Regions from separate parts of the Homo sapiens genome. Here region 2 is linked to region 1. A link means that fine-mapping ties the variant in region 1 to the expression of a gene that starts in the linked region. Tissue or cell type: whole blood. Region 1 holds a variant in brackets; the other region holds the start of a gene. All regions are shown on one strand. Distances are from middle to middle.

Region 1 (5,501 bases):
GTGCAGTGGCGTAATCTCGGCTCACTGCAACCTCCGCCTCCCAGGTTCAAGTGATTCTCATGCCTCAGCCTCGCGAGTAGCTGGGATTACAGGCACCTGCCACAACGCCCAGCTAACTTTTTATATTTTAGTGGAGATGGGGTTTCACCATGTTGGCCAGGATGGTCTTGATCTCCTGACTCTGTGATCTGCCCGCCTCGGCCTCCCAAAGTGCTGGGATTACAGGCGTGAGTCACCACGCCCGGCCAATTTAACATTTTTCAACATGTGATGTTTTCACCTTCTCCCGCATGAATGTAAACACCTTGAGGTGAACTCCCTGTCTGAAGTTCTCACTGCAGCCTTCCTTGCACCCAGCACAGCATCTCAGGTACACTGGATGCTTGGCAGCCAAGCAAGGAAGGCCATCTGTGCCTCCACAGCTTTGAGACTAGATGGACTACATCTACCTTTGCATCTGGCCAGCATTCCTCCAAATGTAGGGTATACTAGGAAGGCTGGGCTGAACCACAGGCTCCATGGAGTCTCTTGAATTTATCTGGCTACCCTCCTGGAAGCCCAGTACTGGAAACAAAGCCCAGGAGGCCCACATGATGCTGCTCTGGGGAGCAGGCCCTTGGAAATGAAACCCCATGGGTGAGGAAGCCCTGATTGTCTGGATAGAAAGTTCCTGAGGTAGATTTGGGGTTGCTTTTTCTTCTAGAGACTTCTAGATACTCTAGATATTCTCTCCTTCCTGAGGCAGACTTGGGGCTGCTTTTTCTTCTAGAGACTTCTAGATACTCTAGATATAACTCTAGATACTTCTCTCCTTCCTGATGACTAAGGATGTTAGAGTAGCTAATGAGTGTGGGGCATGAGCCACGCACCTGGCACCTCACTAAGTACTTCACACACATCATCTGCTCAAATCCCCCACATGACTCCATGAGATGGGCATTATCATCGCCAGGACACAGCTGAGGAAACTGAGGCCAAGAAAGCTCCCAAGGTCACCAGGCTGGGAAGCAGCAGAACATCTCAGGCGTGTTTGCCTGTCCCCTGCCTTCCAGCATCTCTGCACCCTCCCCCACGCCCTGAAGGAAGTGGGGGTGGAGGAGAGAGCGCTGCAGGCAGCAGATGAGCTCTTGGAAAACTGGGAGGTTTCTCAAGATAGGAGCTGGGAGAGAAATGCCACAGTTAGGGCCCTCCTTGAAGCTACCCACAAGGGCTCCGGAGGGGTGAGAGTGCTCTCTTACTGGAGTAGTCAAAAGACAGTCTTGCAGCATGCCGCCCCCTCCCCTCCTCGATATTCTCACTGCCAAATGAAATCTGGCAGTTTCTGAAAATAGCTCAGCGCTGCAGCAGGCACTCTGCCCGCCCTTCAGCAGGCTGGCACACAGCTGGGGGTGGCCACTCTGGGCAGATGCTGGCACACACAGGACCGGGGGTAGGTGTCACACACACTGCACAGGGGCAGCACAGAGCTGGGGGCATGTGGCAGCTGCCATCCCTCAGCTCTTCTGACCTTTCTAGGCCTGGCGAGGACTCTGGCCTTGGAGTTAGCATGGCATGCTTATCAGGCCTGAGGCACCCCCTCCAGCTGGGGTGAAATCACTAGTGGGTCTGAGAAGCTGCCCTTGGGCCACCTTTGTCCACCCCTGTAGACAAAGAGTAAACCCAGGAGCCAAGAGAAAATGATGAAATGGTGTTTATTACTATCTGGATGTAAAACCCAGCAGTGTTGTCCTATCTGACATGGTCTAGGGTTTCCCAGCCAGTGAGAGAGGGGCCAGGAAGGAACTAGGCTGCGTGTCAGGCACTTGTCAGGCAGTATCAGGCACTCAGCACCCTAAGGCTACCATGGTGGGGTGGGGCTGGTAAGCTCTGATCAGCCAGGAAAGGCCCTCTCTGCCCTACTCAGGCCCAAGCCAGGACCAGACATTCTGAGCATGGCTCAGTCGCCTTCCCCAACCTCAGGTCTGACCCAGAGTAAAGAAAGAGACCTCAGGTTAATGGGAAGCCACTTAGCTCTGCTCCCAACCAGCCACTTTCACACAAGTATACCAAAAGATAGCCCCTGACTTCAACAGAGAGGGGCTTTCCTGCCTGAGATCTGGTGAGCAGATGGGTGCAGGGAAAGTATGCTGGCTTTTGTCACAGTGACATTTTCCAAAGTGGAAAAAAGTTAAAAATATCTCCCACCTTAAGTTCAGA[T/G]GAAAAGTCACCCTTTGGGTCGGGAATAGTGAGGGGATGGCTAGGCCCAGGGACTCCCTCAGGGGAGAGCGCTGAGTGCCATCTGGGCTGGGGCTGCAGCAAGGCAGGGCTGGACTGCACAGGGAGGCAGGCAGACCGGATCCAGCAGCCTCAGGGCCCAAGGAGGAGTGAGAATGAGAGGGCCAGCCAGTGTGTGAGAAATCAGCCTCCCCAAGGCAGAGGTGAACCCTCAATCGCCCCTCCTCCCTTACTCGCTCACTCAGCATTCACAGGCAGCAACGTGGTCCCTGGTCACCATGGCAACCAATGGCCAATGCCTTTCTCAAGGCCAGGCCCATCTGCCCATCCCACAGGGAGATGTCTCTGTGGAAGATGGGAAGCCCAGCCACAACTCCCAGTGGCCTAGAAAGCTAAGGCCATGCACCAGGGCAGGACAGCACAGAGGCCTCACTCGGGCCAACCTAGCTAAAGGTGCTGCTATGGCAGCAGGCAGCTCCCAGCCCCTAGGCCCTGCCCATCTCTAGGGCTTGAGCCTGGGCCAGAGATCTGAAGGAGGTTTAGGGTCAGGGTCCTCCATCCTGAAGTTCCGAGTGACAAATTAAAACACAACAAAATAATCCTTTTGTTAAAAGAATGACCCTGGGCCCTCCTGGCCAGGGCCTGAGCACATTTCAGTCTGTTATGCAGGCTGAGAGGCCAGGCTCCTCCAAGGCCCCATGAGCTACTGGTTGTTGCAGCCCTGTGAGGCAGAGGAGCTGCCTGCCTGCTTTTTTCTCCTCTTGTTGAGGAGCCGGTTGTTAGAGGTCTTCAGGTCCTTGATCTTCACCTGGTCGTAGTCTACCCGCATAGTGGCCAAGGCACTGGTCATCTCCTCCTGGGGACAGACAGGATGGTGGGCACTAAGAGGTCAGGATGTACTGACCTTAGGAACCATCACCCCCCTGCCTGGGCAGCCCCTTAATGTCAGTGACAGCCTGTGCTGCCTCTGTGCCCACTGTGTGCCCAGCACTGGGCCAAGCCCTTTGCATCACATGATCCTCACTACCGTCCTCTGTGGTAGACACTGAGCTTATTCACTAAGGCACAAAAGGAGAGTTACTCCCTCGGACCACACCAAGGGTAAGTGGGATAGTGAACTAAACCAGTTCCACCACAGAACCACAAGACCTGCAGAGAATGCCATCTCGCTGGGCAACCAGCGCACTGGGGCCTGGAGATTGTGCCACTGGAGCTGCTACTCCATATGTTCAAACGTGGCCTCTGCTGGGTCTAAACCAGGCTGACCACCCTCCCAAATGTTGTTGGTTATAAGAGAGGTCATCATCCAAGCTTGGTACCAAAGCCCCGTTTCATTGAGGAAGTGAGCCAGGAGCACCACACTGAATGGCGTAGTGAGGCCCAATCCTTGGAGTGCCATGGTTGGACCACTGCGACAGTCACTGACACCCTGTGCTCCAGGTATAGAAAGGGGCCAAAGACCCCAGACCCTGGGTAGCCACCCCCCTGAAGTCCCTTTTGCCCAAATCCTGGCACCTGTATTGAGACTGAGGCAGAGCCCACCCACCTTGACTTCGTCCCAGTGGTCTTTGTCCTCCTGCAGCACTCGGGCCGTGTGGAGTGGGGTCTGTGGCACTACCATCGATTGCTGGAAGGAGCCCCACGCCCGTGGATTAGAAACTGGAGGCACCTGGGACAGCACTGGTTCCCCCTACTCCATCCTCTTCTCCCAGACTCAGATGGAAAAACCAAGGCTCAGGGTGGGGAAGGAGCCTCACTAGGGCAGTGACAAAGCCAGGTTGTAGGTGAGGCCCTAGTATCTACCTGTGTGCATGGGCCCATTCCAGCCCTGCACTGGGGCCTCAAAGCAGAGCCACCACCCTCCTGCCCGGCAGCCCCACTCCTGTTGGACACCCTGCCTGCCATGGGAGGAGGAGGGGCTCACGTTGATCCAGGGGTGGTTCATGAACTGAGTGATGGTCAGCCTCTCTGTGGGGTCTGTCTTCAACAGGAGGCGGATCAGCTGCTTGGCTAGGGGGGCCAGGGAAGAGAGGGGAGAGATGAGATTGCAGAGCCAGCCCCTCCACCCTTCCCCACAGACCACAAGCTCTGCTGGGGCAGGGGCTGCATGTGCTCCCAAATTCCCAACCCACAGAAAGAGTGAGCTAACAACTATTTCTTGTTTTGAAACACTAAGTGTTCAGGATAATTGGTTAAGCAGCAGTAGATAACTCATACAGGGCAGCCTTGTTTGTGGTCCTCAAAGGGGAAAATATGAATGAGGAATAGGAGTTAGAGGGAGTTTTGAGGAGGCAAGTTTTGAGCCTGTTTGGCAGATGTAGAAACTGAGGCTCAAGAAGGTTAGGGGACTTGCCTAGGGTCCCATAGCTGGAAAGAGGGGGAGCCAAGATTTGAACACAGGTCAGTTTGACACCAAAGTGATGTTTCCCAGAATGAAAGCCGCAGGGGCCAGGTGAGTCAGGCTGGGACAGAGAGGTTCACTCACCATCCTCAGAGACTTCTGACCACTCAGGATTGGGGAAGCCGTACTGGCCCAGGCGAATCCTCCTCTTCATCCCCGGGGAGATGGCCTGGCCCGTGTTGGAGTAGAAGGGTGGGAAGCCACAAAGGCTGGGGGAAGGGGTAAGTCATTTGGCATAGGGTGGGAGCAGTGCCAGGGTGGACCCATTTCCCCTCAAAAGCCCCTGACTGGGGAGACAGACAACCAGACACCATAGCAATAATACCAGCCCTCCGGACTCCCAGGCACATCCCAGGAATGCCATCAGCCCTTGGCATGGGGAGACCCTCAGGCACCTGAAGGAGTGGTGTCCCATGACCAAAAGGGAAGGGCAGCCTGCATGAGGAGTGACACACACAAGCTCCTCACCAAGGACATGGGGGTGGGGGGACAGAAGTGGTCCTGAGGGCTCACAGTGGGGGTAAGGGCAGGAGATGGAGGCAGGGGGTGGGGAAGGTACTCACAGGATGTACATGATGACACCCAGGGACCACATGTCACATGACTTGTCATACTTCTCTGGACCCAGGACCTCAGGGGCTGCCAGGGCAGAGGGACAGCAGGGCTCTCAGACCCAAGGGTCTTGGAGCCCAGGCAGGAGCCTAAAGCCTGGGCAAGGTGGGGAGCAGGTACCTGGGCTGGGAGGTAGGGCAGAGCAGACTGGCGTCTGGCACCTTTTGGAAAGGCAGCATGTGTGTGAAGTTGGGGGAGGAGAAAGCTCCTGGAAAAAAATCAACCACTTTCAGACATACCCCTAGCTCCCTTGGGCCTGAGCCCCTCTACCAGT
Region 2 (5,227 bases), 21 kb before region 1:
ACAGCAGCATTTAAGGAGCCAGCCAGTCTGATGACTCAGCTCATAAAACAATGTGTGGCCACAAAGATGATGTTTATCCATGAGCATTCTGGAGGCTCTTGCTACTGAAGTCGGCAAGCAGTGGATAAGTGGCACACGATGCTCATTCTCAAGAGTTTCTGGCAGCGGTGCCAACACAGCACTCACTTCCCTCTCTCAGCAGTTGATTTCATCTGATGCTCTGTCCAAACAGAATGGTAGAAAAAAACATCAGAGAAATGCAGTGGGTATAGAGGCAAATCCAAACAAAGTGCAGGTGATAGTGGTGACATTCTGCCTTCTCTTGATCAGAAGGTGTCAGCAGCTGGAGCTTATCCCCATATGAACCCCAGGGTCAGGTAAATGGAAGACTTAAGAACACGTTACCCAACTTACCTCTGCCCTTCTGGGTTCCTCAAGGAGGGGGTCTGCTGTGGTTAGTAAAACGTCTGCGGAGCTAGTTTCCTTCATGGCAGAGAGATGCGCAAGCTAGTCTCACTTCACCAGCACCTCTTATTTACCCCAAAGCAACACCTTTTAGGAAGCCTCCTTTCAGGAGGCAGCTTTGGAATAAGGGGCTAATTCAAAGTAAGTTAACACAAAGGCTGTACACAGTGGCTCACACTTGTAATCCCAGCACTTTGGGAGGCTGAGGCAGGCAGATGACTTGGGGCCAGAAGTTCAAGACCAGCCTGGCCAACATGGTGAAACCCCGTCTCTACTAAAAATACAAAAATTAGCCAGTCATGGTGGTATGCGCCTGGAGTCCCAGCTACTTAGGAGGCTGAGACAGGAGAATCACTTGAACCCAGGAAGCAGAGATTGCAGCGAACCAAGATTGCTCCACTGCACTCCAGCCTGGTGACAAAGTGAGAATGTGTCTGAAAAAAAAAAAAAGATAAAGTTAACACAGAGATGGCTGACACAATTAGAGCACTTTCAGGTGAAGAGACCTAAAGTGTCTAAGAAGATATTAGTATTTTGCTTTAAGTTTTGTTGCATCTGAATATATTTTCAGTAGGGAGGGGATAGGGAAGAGTGTGACAGGAAGACAGATTAAGCAGTACAATATTTCATTATTTTCCCTAAAATGACAAACTTTAACCATCTGTTCCTATTTTATCAACCCATTCAAAATGTTATTAAAATGTGGATTTCTTTCAGTTAGCCAAGGTCTTCAAATGAGAAATGGCCAAAGCTCTCCTGATTTTAATTCGTGGAGACTGATGTGGCACTTCTGGATGGGCTCTAATGAATAAGCCCCACCATGAGAAGCACCCCCAGATGTTTCCAGATGTGTCAGAGAATTCCCAGCACTTGCTTGCTGCCCACTTGACTGTGAGCTACCTGGAGACAGCACCATGCTATATTCTTTTTTATTTTTAGTGCCTAGCATGCAGCATCTGACACATAGTAGGTGCTCAGTAAATATTGTTTTAATTAATACATTAGTAAATGAGTGCTTTTAATGTTTTCCAGAAATTTATATTTTTGTTCCAATAGGGTTTTTGTTTGCATGTTTATTTTCTGTCCAGGAAAAAGGGCGGAGATAGAATCAAAAACAAGATACCCCCTGGAAGGAAGGGCAAATAGATAGAAACTTGGCATTACCTAGATCTCTTTTCCCTTGGGGGGAAATAATTATGTCCTTAAATTTCTGCACTAAGTCACCAAGGAGGGCTTGAAATTAAAAACCTTGGAGAGTAATTAGCAACAAAACGTTCTGATGTCAAAAAGCACATTTTATAGGACCACATTTGTAATATTAATTGGGCCTCTGCATAGCCAAATGGTGAAATTATTGCTACAATACAAACAGGCCCAAAAGAGAAAAACAGCCCAAAATAGCACAGATATTCCAAATCAGGACAGAGGTAATTTCTCTATACATAAAAAACCACCAATTGAATGCCTTCACCAACTCACTTGAGTTAAATGAGTTAAAAAACAAAAGCCTGTTGAGTAGTGTAGCACCACCTACCCCATCTCTGAAATGCTATGGGACTGGGGCTAGGAAAAGAACCGAGACTTTATCCCCACCAGCTTTTCATACTTTTTATCTTGAAGTGTAAAAAGTTTGAATCATTTATTTACCAAAAATTTATTGAGCACCTATTATGGGCCAGGTCCAGAGCAAAAAAAAAAAAAAAAAAAAAAAACAGCGAGCCACTGCACCCAGCCTCTCTTCATGGAGTTTAGCATCTAGTTGGGAGAAGAGACACTGAACCAATAATCACACAAGCAAATATCTAATGAGAGACACAAGGACAGGTGCAGTGGCTCACGCCTGTAAATCCCAGCACTTTGGGAGGCTGAGGCGGGCAGATCATTTGAGGCCAAGAGGTCGAGACCAGCCTGGCCAACATGGCGAAACCCTGTCTCTACTAAAAATACAAAAATTAGCCAGGTGTGGTGGTGGGTGCCTGTAGTCCCAGCTACTCGGTAGACTGAAGCAGTAGAATCACTTGAACCCGGGAGACAGAGGCAGAGGTTGCAGTGAGCAAAGACTGCACCACCACTGCACTCCAGCGTGAGTGACAGAGCAAAACACCATCAAAAAAAAAAAAAAAAAAAAAAAAAAACGAAGAGAGATACAAGTACTAGGAAAGAAGAGAAAGAGAAAGGGTACATGTACAGAGGGAGCCTCAGCCAGGGATTCTGACCTAGTTTGCAAATAGGGAAGACTTCCTGGAGGAAATGATATTTAAACTGGAGGCTGACAATACATACAAATTAGCCAAGTAAAGAAGAGAAAAGTGTTCTAGACAGAGCAAGCAGCATTTGGGAAAGGTGAATCTGGTGAAGAAGGAGCTTAACGTATCCAAGGAATGGAAAGGCCAGTGTGACCAGGACATGATGTGTGAGCGAGCAAGTGGGGAGTGGGGAGAAATGTGCGGACTAGAGTGGAAGATAGGGGCAGCCGCTGGGGCCTTGCCACGTCCCATGACATTAGGGAACCAGCCATTGACAGACCTTGGGTCAGAAGCAGAGATAAGAGACATGAATAAGAACATGATCTCCCCTCAAGGAGATCCTGGGCTTGTTGAGGGAACAGCCTAGGAAAAGGCCTATCCTCTTGAGTCCTGGGCTCAGAGGCACCACTGCACATTCCCCAATTCTCTGAGCACCAACAAAGTCTGTGCAGAAGCATCTAGGACCACTGCTCACACAGGACCACTCCAGGCTTCTTTCTCCTCCTTGAGCCAATCTTTCCTTTGTTCTCAAGATGGCACATCTGTGCCAGGCTCCAGCGCTCATCTCCCGGGTTTGGAGGGGAAGCACAGCTTACCTCCCTACACAGCCCACTCTCCAGGTTCTGTGACCCACTGCTTTAGCTGTGGTCTCAACACCTTGCTTGTCCCTCACACCCCTGCCCATGCTAAGGGTCCAGGGAAAGAATGTTGCCAGGGGCACCAACAAGCAATTGGCCCTGAATCTGATCAAGGATTACTGCTAATCTCTTCCTTGAGGAACATTTAATACAGGATGCCAAAAAAGAGAAATCTTTAGAGAATTCTCTCACAAGATCACACCTTAGGACTTGTACTCGGAACATGCAGGGCCCTGACCCAGGGAGCAGCAGGAATAGTACTCACTCTGTCACCACTGAAGAAGAGCAACTCTAAGAAATGGGGACTATTCTGTTCTCCAATTAGCATTGAGGGTGATGGATCAGAATTTATAATATGCAGTTATGAGTTATGGAACAATCAGAGAAGTGATCCTGATTCAGAAACCTGCCATTCCAGGAGCCATGGCAATTTTTCATGAGAACTCATCATGGGGTGGCCCCTGCCAAAACCTCACTTGCACCCAGCCTGTCCCAGCCCCAGTCTGTCACTCCAGCCCACTGACAGCCTCAGGCTTTTTCAAGTTTCAGGTGACCTAGCAACAGGGAATAGAACTTGAGAGCTCTGGAGTCAGAGCTGGGTTCACATCCAGCTCCAGATAGATACTTCCTAGCTGGGTGACCCCAGGCAAGTAGCTTAATCCCTCTGAACCGAGTTTCTTCCTGTCAGGTGGGAATCAGAATGGCTTCTACATCAGGGATGCTTCTGAGGATAATGCCTGCAAAGTTCTCAACACAGAGCCCGGCACAAGGTAAATGCTCACTAAACTTTGGAACCTTGCTCCCCTCCTACCAGCTCAAATTGCTTCCCAGAAATGCTGGGTCTCCTTGCATTTGTGGAATCTGCTTCTCCTCCAAGCTAGCCTGCGAGAGCTGGTTTGGTCACCCCTGCGCAGCTGGGCTGGCCTCCTGCGTCTGCCTCTTACCAGCCAGCACTTAACTCAGCATGAGCCTCTTCTCTCTATTTAACACCAAAAGAAATTGATTTCCCTAAGCTATTTCCATGATGCAGCACCCCTGAGAACTACATATTGCATCAGTTCTCCTCCATGACCATCAAACCCCCTGCTCACAGCCACTCTCCCTAGAGCCACAGGGTCCTCAGCTGCCAAGGCATAGATCTGTTTCATTTTGCACTTGCTTAAAGGTCAAACATGAATTTCTCCCCATTATTGTACTGTGTCTTGTCACACAGACTGTCTGTTTCATGGATTAGTCATAGTCTTGCTATCAAATTAGATATTCCTCAGTAGTTATTTTTAGATAAATCTTTTTCTAATTCTACACGGTGCAATGATGTGTGTGCACCCACAGCTCTGGAATCCAGGCATTACCAGGTGGGTTCCAAATTGTATGAGAGTTCACATTCCTCCAGAAAGCAACAGCCAGTGGAGCAGTGGAGTTTGTAACCTAGCTCTGTCCATGGACTCTTCTGTCCAGCCCAAAATAATTAATCCCCATGTCTTGGATAATCCAATCACTTATCATCAGTCCAGTAAAAGCCCAAAGGAGGCTTGTGACACAATTGTGAGTTAAGCAAAACATGTCTATGCCATCCCAACCTCTTGTTTGACTCTCTCCTTGATCTTAGTACAGAGGCACCAAAGGCAATTGTGCCTTCATGCCCTGCACCCCCATGGAAGACTGCCCTCGGGAAAGGCCCTGCCACCCTCCTGACTGAGACCTGAGTGAATATTACTGGTTATATCCCTGCTTGCTCCCATGGTTCTGCCTGCACACTCAGACCAGCGTCCATAGGGAAATGAGGTCCTCAGAACAGAATTTTAGACTTAACTGGGGTGAGTGTGCATGGAGAAGGAAGGGCTTGCTAAGAGGGAGTCCTCTTCACCTACTCCAAGG

Evidence for each region. PIP is the estimated chance that this variant, and not a neighbour inherited with it, causes the effect.
Region 2: it holds the start of LINC02019, and the variant in region 1 is fine-mapped to the expression of LINC02019 in whole blood (TOPMed, PIP 0.98).

What each region holds. Positions count from the first base shown.
Region 1 is chr3:50,645,463-50,650,963 of GRCh38, reverse strand. MAPKAPK3 (MAPK activated protein kinase 3) reads right to left here. Exons shown (of 11, transcript NM_001243925.2): 7 at 5,179-5,254; 8 at 4,700-4,824; 9 at 4,139-4,224; 10 at 3,761-3,841; 11 at 1,673-3,070. The coding sequence ends at 2,918. Among named protein-coding and RNA genes, the nearest start is that of LINC02019, 21 kb to the left of the region's middle. RefSeq lists enhancers at 1,342-1,895, 3,387-3,886. The variant T/G (reference allele first, on the strand shown) is at 2,197.
Region 2 is chr3:50,666,364-50,671,590 of GRCh38, reverse strand. LINC02019 (long intergenic non-protein coding RNA 2019) reads right to left here and starts at 2,152. Exons shown (of 2, transcript NR_183733.1): 1 at 415-2,152; 2 at 1-220.